2 linked regions of the Homo sapiens genome follow. The protein of the gene in region 2 purifies or fractionates together with the protein of the main gene of each other region. This does not show direct contact. Each region holds a gene or a part of one and is shown on either strand. Other genes may lie near its edges.

Region 1 (3,461 bases), on a different chromosome or scaffold from region 2:
TACTCCTAGACAATCAAGAAGAGCAACAAAGCCAAATCTTACTAAAATAATTTGAAGAGGAAGAATTATAACAACAAAAAGGGGGAAATTGTCAGAATAAAAGAAAGGTTCCTCTTCAAAGATCCAACTTTCTTGTCATAGGCTGTAAACCGCCTTGCTCCAAACCTTAACCTGTAACCTTTACCCTCTGCCTTATTTGAGAAAGATTCAAGCGCATAGCCAATTGGAGTCAGCCTAGACTGTGCGGTCCAACCCCAGCCAATGGGGGAAAGACAAAGAAGCAGGAACTGCGTTAGGGTTAGAAACCTGTTCTCCTTTGTTAGGTGTGCTTTTGCGACTGCTATAGGCGCGGGCAGCACCCTTCTGCAGAAGTAAACTTTGCCTTGCTGAGAAACTTTTCTTCTGAGTGCTCCTCTTCCTCTGCGGCACTCAGAAATAAGAGAACTTATTTCTAACAGGAGGAAGAAGACATGATAATTTTGCACACGCAGGTTCTGAGTTTTGGCTGGTGCGCTGAGTGCTTACCATACCGCAAATACTGTGTGATCTGGGCTGAAGAACAGAAAACCCAACTAACAGTGACTTAGGCAAAAAGAAATTTTATTCTTTCACAGAAGTCTGAGGCAGGCAGGTCCAGAGTTCATGCAGGAGCTCAATAACATCAGAGATTGGGCTCTTTTTGTTCTTCTTAGCATATCGATGTTTTACGTGATGCTGGGCACCTCGGGGACCTAAGATGGCTGTTGTAGCTCCATGCATCATGATTAAACCAGAGACAGGAAGTGTACGATGGAAGAGGCCAGAGGTGATGGCCTCCTCCTCTCCTTTTGTCTTATTCCTGGAGTGACTCCCTCCTCTTATCAGCAGGGATACAAGCAGTGCCTGGCAGCCTTCCCTCTCTCCTGTATGAGCCAAAAGCAAGACTCATGGCACCCCTCCCTGCAGGAAAGGGGTGGAATGGAGCCCCTGGCAAAGGGGGCTGGACTTGCAGTGACAGTGCTGCTCTGAACAGGACTAGGCTTCTGTTGGAGAGGTGGTCAGCGGCTGCTAGGCAGGTCACAAGCTGCCTCACCCATGGCTCTCCAGCTCTGCACCTACCCTCTCCTTCTAATAAATCTGTTTCAATAACCACCACGAGGTTTAAAGAGGAGCAGTAACTTGCCCACGGTTGCGCCAGGCACCCCTAGAAGAGCAAGAATTCCTTACAAAGTTATTAAAACAGGCAAATCCCATATAGGTGACATTTCTATCCAACAATGCTGACATCTCTTTTAGTTTTGAGCCTTAGTAATCCAATTTTCTGCCTCAGGAAGAGGCAGCAGCTTCTGGGAAAAATCTGCTCCTGCTAAGGTGGCTCATTCATTGTTTTACCTGAATAGAGTGGTGGATGGTGAAGGTTCAAATTCTCACTTTCCATATTAAATTTTATAACATAAAAAATAATTAAATGGGGTGCGCGCGGTGGCTCACGCCTATAATCCCAGCACCTGGGAGGCTGAGGAGGGCAGATCACGAGGTCAGGAGATCGAGACCATCTTGGCTAACACGGTGAAACTGCGCCTCTATAAAAATACAAAAAATTAGCTGGGCATGGTGGCGGGCGCCTGTAGTCCCAGCTACTCAGGAGGCTGAAGCAGGAAAATGGCATGAACCCAGGAGGTGGAGCTTGCAGTGAGCCGAGATCGCGCCACTGCACTCCAGCCTGGGTGACAAGAGTGACTCGGTCTCAAAAAAAAAAAAAAAAATTAAATGAGCCAACCAGGACAATGTTTAAAAGCCAGAGCCAAAAAGGCTCCAAAATAAAACAAACTTGTCTGCTCAATTAATTATTTGAAGAGAACCTACAGTAATACAGACTGGAGATGGGAAAGCACGAGGGATGTATGAGTCGAGGAACCGGCAAAGGGGTGTGGGGGTGTGTGTGTGTGTGTGTGTGCACACACATGCACCCAGCTAGGGTAGAAAATAAGTACTTTTGCTTCTATGGGAAGTGACTTTCCAGTTCACTTGTGTATCAAATGAACATGATGAAATCAAGTTGTACTAGCCAATGTTTGGGAGGGTTCTGTATTAAAGGGATAAAGAAAAACATTAGAAAGAGAAGTTACAAAAATCACTGTGGGGAAAATGAACACCAATGACTTGGCTGCTCTGAGGCTTGCAGGGAGTAGACAGTTAGGCATCCCAGGTCATCAGAGAACCAGTGGGGTCTTTTCCTCAGGGGCCGGGTTTTCTACACGCAAGTCAAACCTCTTCTCCTCTGGGACACATGTTTCCAAAGGACTCCAGAAACACAGCACAGCTGGATTCAGGTACTGTGTCAAGATGTGCCTTCTTCTTCATCTTTGACAGCAATTAATGTACTAAATGTCTTGATAGAGAAGGTCATATTTGGGAATATTCTTGGGATCAATAGGACTTTGGACAATAAGCTTCCCCCTCATTGCTCCTCGATAGATTACTTCAATCAAATCTATGAAGTCTTGTTTGGTTTTGAAGCTTCCCACAAACTTAGTGTGATCTGGAGATCTAGACAGCATAGAAGAGAAACAACTGCTCTAAGAACTTTGAGTAATCACTTGTTGAAGACTTTCAGGATAAACAAAATGAAAAACAGCTTTGTTATTTTCTTCTTGTCAATGAGACTTCAGAAATAAAGCCCAACATTAATTTTTCAATCATTTTTTTCCATTTAGTAAATGACTCAACCCAGTGCTGTGGGCCACTAGCATGAAAGCTCTGTCATGTGCAAAGCTTTAGCTTCAAAAGCTATTGTAATCACAAAATCTATTTTTATCACTTCTCAAATCATCAAGCAGATTTCACCAAGTGTTGGAGTGCACATTGTTTCTTCGTTTGCTGTTGTTGCTTTTGCCTGGGCATTGTGCAAAGCCCATTCAATATTCATGGCCTTTTGAGTGGTAGGTATTAAAAAATTGATTTTTTAGAAAAGTATCTCAAACACCAGGTATGTTACTGTAAAAATTTTAAAGAAATAAATAAAATCACGGATGAGGCCAGAGGTCACTTTTCAGTGTCTATCCTTCCAATCTTGTGTGTGTGTGTGTGTGTGTGTGTGTGTGTGTGTGTGTGTGTATGTGCAGATACAAACTTCTTTTTTCCCAACATTGGGAATTATGTCATACAAATTATTCAGTAATATGCTTTTTTCTAGCTGACATATATTTCTTTCATTTGTTAAATGTGCATCTGCAACATCATATTAAAGTCCTGGAAGTGTAATTACTGGGTTAAAAAGTTTAAAAACTTTAAACTATTTGATACATAATGTTGAACTGGCCCCCATAAAAGGTTGTACCAAATTAATACTTACATCAAATGTGTTCCAGTAGAATAAACAGCTTTAAAATACTTTTGTGTTTTTTTTTTGTTGTTGTTGTTGTTGTTTTGCGATGGAGCCTTGCTCTGTCACCAGACTGGAGTGTAGTGGTGCGTTCTCT
Region 2 (3,141 bases):
GCCACTGGGCCTGGCCTACATGACTGCTTTTCAAGGGAATTGTTTTAACATGTTAAGAGGCTAAGCACAAAAGTAGCATTCAAGTGTTGGTTAGACACTTTTGAATATTATTTGATTTAAACATTTCTTTCAAATGGCATGCAAGAAATGGCTTAGGGGTTCTCAGGACTGAGGAATCAGGATGGGAACTTGATAACAGGGACCTTAGGTTGAAAGCTATTGTTCTAAAACAAGGTGCTTTCCCGGCATGGGAAGCAAATGCTGGGTTTTACAAGACCACAAGTGAGGCAGTGCCTTTGACTTGGCATTATCTACTGTGGCAACAAGCAGCAAGGTCATGATAGGGTTACTGGTGGAATAGCCTTGCTTTTTGGAACAAAAATTCCCACAAATTACCCACATATCAAAGTTATCCATTAGCTAACAAACATGAACGTTTTCTAGCAAATAAAACACGCATATCACAAAGTCCTCTCTTTAAAAGAAAACATAAAGAAGAGAAAGAGAAAAGAAGCTGATGACGGTGAAGCCTGATTTAGCAGATACGTTTATTCAACACAGTGCATGATTCAAAGCATCGGATATTCCACAGCCAACAAGGTTTCCTATTCCCTATTACAAAATACCGGATACCCTGAATATAGCTCATTCAAGGTCCTCGTTCCTTTTTCCCTATATCTAGAATTAAACAGGTTTCCCCGTTTAGCGCACATTTCACGTTCGCTGAAGGCTTTGGGGAGAGGGGGAAACAGAGCTTATGACTGCCCCTCTGAACCAAAGGCACTTAATGTTAAAAGATAAAGCACAGTAGAGTCACCCCACAGACATTCCTATGTGTTCAACGGCTGAACTTCAGCATACCATCACCGGCCCCATGTGGGATTCATCATAACAACGTAAAAGACACTGATTTCCTTGGAAAAACAAAGTGCAGTACGAATATAAAGGAGTCACCACACCCCTCTTCCGAAAATAATACATAAGAGAACTCTTACTTTACATGATTAGTATCACTCAAGGTTCACACATGGAAAAAATAGCTAAAAAATAATCTATAATAAATTCTCACTATGAAGTCACAATAGAATCTGATACCCTTTTTAGAACTGGTGAGTTGGAGAGACACCCAGAGGTCATGCTGTCCATCCCTTCATTTGATAGGGGAGGGCACTTGAGGCCCAGGAAGGTCAAGCGTCGGACCTGGGGTCTAACCCCTGTGGCAGAGCCTGCGTAGGACGCGGGCCTCCTGAAGCCTAGCTCAGGGTTCCCTCCACTCCCCTTCCTCTTTAAAGACTCTCAAAAGTAAAATATGGTGATGATCTCCAAAGATGCACCACACCATAAAGCACATGCACTGACCCAGGTCAGCAATTTGGTCTCACAAGGCGGTTCCTTTGGCCATTGGGCAGGTATGTAACCCACCTCAGGGTGGGAATTCTTTGCATGGGATCGTTCAAAGTTCTGAGAAAAGCCCAATGTAGGTCAGACACGACTGCTCCTTGGACTGGGGAAGACTTTCCTTGGTTGTCAGTCCATAGTGGGCAGGCGGTCGGCTGCACAGCGGAATCCCAGATTCGAAGCAGAGCTATCAGGTGTGTTCTGGCTCCGAGCAGCACAGCGATACCTGTAACAATAAGACTGTGTAGAGAGAAAGAGCAAGGTAAGTGCTACTGGGACTCTCAGCTGAAGGCTCTAACCCATCAGATGCATATTGCACCGGCTGTAGACAGTGCTTCCCCACAACCCTGCCTGTATGGATACTTAACATGTATGCTTTAAAAAGGGCAGCACATTCAAGAACTAACCACATATTTTCCAACGTCCTTCACCTTATAAATGTAACACGGATATAGTACAAAGATGTTCAGCATTAGATATAACAGCAAAAAAGAAAAATGTAACAACCAATGATTGCCTAAGTTTAGGCACATCCATATAATAGAAAAGTAAGCAGCCATTGAAAGTCATGTCTTTACATAGTATTTAATGACACAGGAAGTTTTCATGATAAAATGTTAAATGAGGCCAGGCGCACTGGCTCACACCTGTAATCCCAACATTTTGGGAGGCTGAAATGGGAGAACTGTTTGAGGCCAGGAGCTCGAGGCCAGCCTGGGCAACACAGCAAGATCCCATCTCTACAAAAAATTAGCTGAGCATGGTGGTGTGCACTTGTAGTCACAGCTACTCTAGAGGTTGAAGTGGGAAGATCTCTTGAGCCTGGGTGTTTGAGGCTGCAGTACACCATCACTGAGCCACTGTACTAAAGCCTGGGTGACAGAGCAAGATCTTGTGTCCAAAAAAAGAAAAAAAAACAGTTAAAATGAAAAAGGCAGAATATAAAGGTGTATATGTGGTATGACCACAGTGTAGATAACTACATGTGCCAAGAAGAAAAGACTGGAAGATTCCGAATGCACCACAATGTGCACAGTAGTTATCCCTCAAGCAATCTGAGTTTCATGTTTCCTATATGAAACCTATTCAGTATTCCAATACAATAAGAATATATATTAATTTTTGAAATTAAACCAAGTAATAAGTGATAGATGGCCACTGAAAAAATACTAAGAACAACACTAAGACACCATTTAATACCTAAATAATATTTATGATATTATTTATTATCTAAATCATATTTATGATATCATTTAATGCCAGTAGATCGGCAAAAAATTAAACAACAAGTCTAGGAACATCAAACATAGGAAAGGCTGTGGGACAACATTGCTTTTTAAAAATACATTGCTCTTCCATTTCTTTGTATCCTCTTTTATTTCATTGAGCAGTGGTTTGTAGTTCTCCTTGAAGAGGTCCTTCACGTCCCTTGTAAGGTGGATTCCTAGGTATTTTATTCTCTTTGAAGTAATTGTGAATGGGAGTTCACTCATGATTTGGCTCTCTGTTTGTCTGTTATTGGTGTATAAGATTGCTTGTGATTTTTGTACATTGATTTCGTATCCTGAGACGTTGCTGAAGTTGCTTATCAGCTTAAGGAGACTTTGGGCTGACACAATGGGGTTTTCTAGATATACAATCATGTCATCTGCAAACAGGGACAATTTGACTTCCTCTTTTCCTAATTGAATACCCTTTATTTCCTTCTCCTGCCTAATCGCCCTGGCCAGAACTTCCAACACT

What was found.
Region 1: the proteins of SUMF1 (region 2) and TXNL4B fractionate together in Homo sapiens (co-fractionation; one large-scale study listed by BioGRID). This does not show direct contact.

What each region holds. Positions count from the first base shown.
Region 1 is NC_000016.10:72,084,274-72,087,734, forward strand, and holds the end of TXNL4B (thioredoxin-like protein 4B), read right to left. Parts: intron 2,530-3,461; coding exon 2,364-2,529; 3' UTR 903-2,363; coding exon of another isoform or gene 833-902; 3' UTR 584-832; downstream 1-583. UniProt on the Homo sapiens protein: Essential role in pre-mRNA splicing. Required in cell cycle progression for S/G(2) transition.
Region 2 is NC_000003.12:4,360,617-4,363,757, forward strand, and holds the end of SUMF1 (formylglycine-generating enzyme isoform 1 precursor), read right to left. Parts: intron 1,639-3,141; coding exon 1,528-1,638; 3' UTR 530-1,527; downstream 1-529.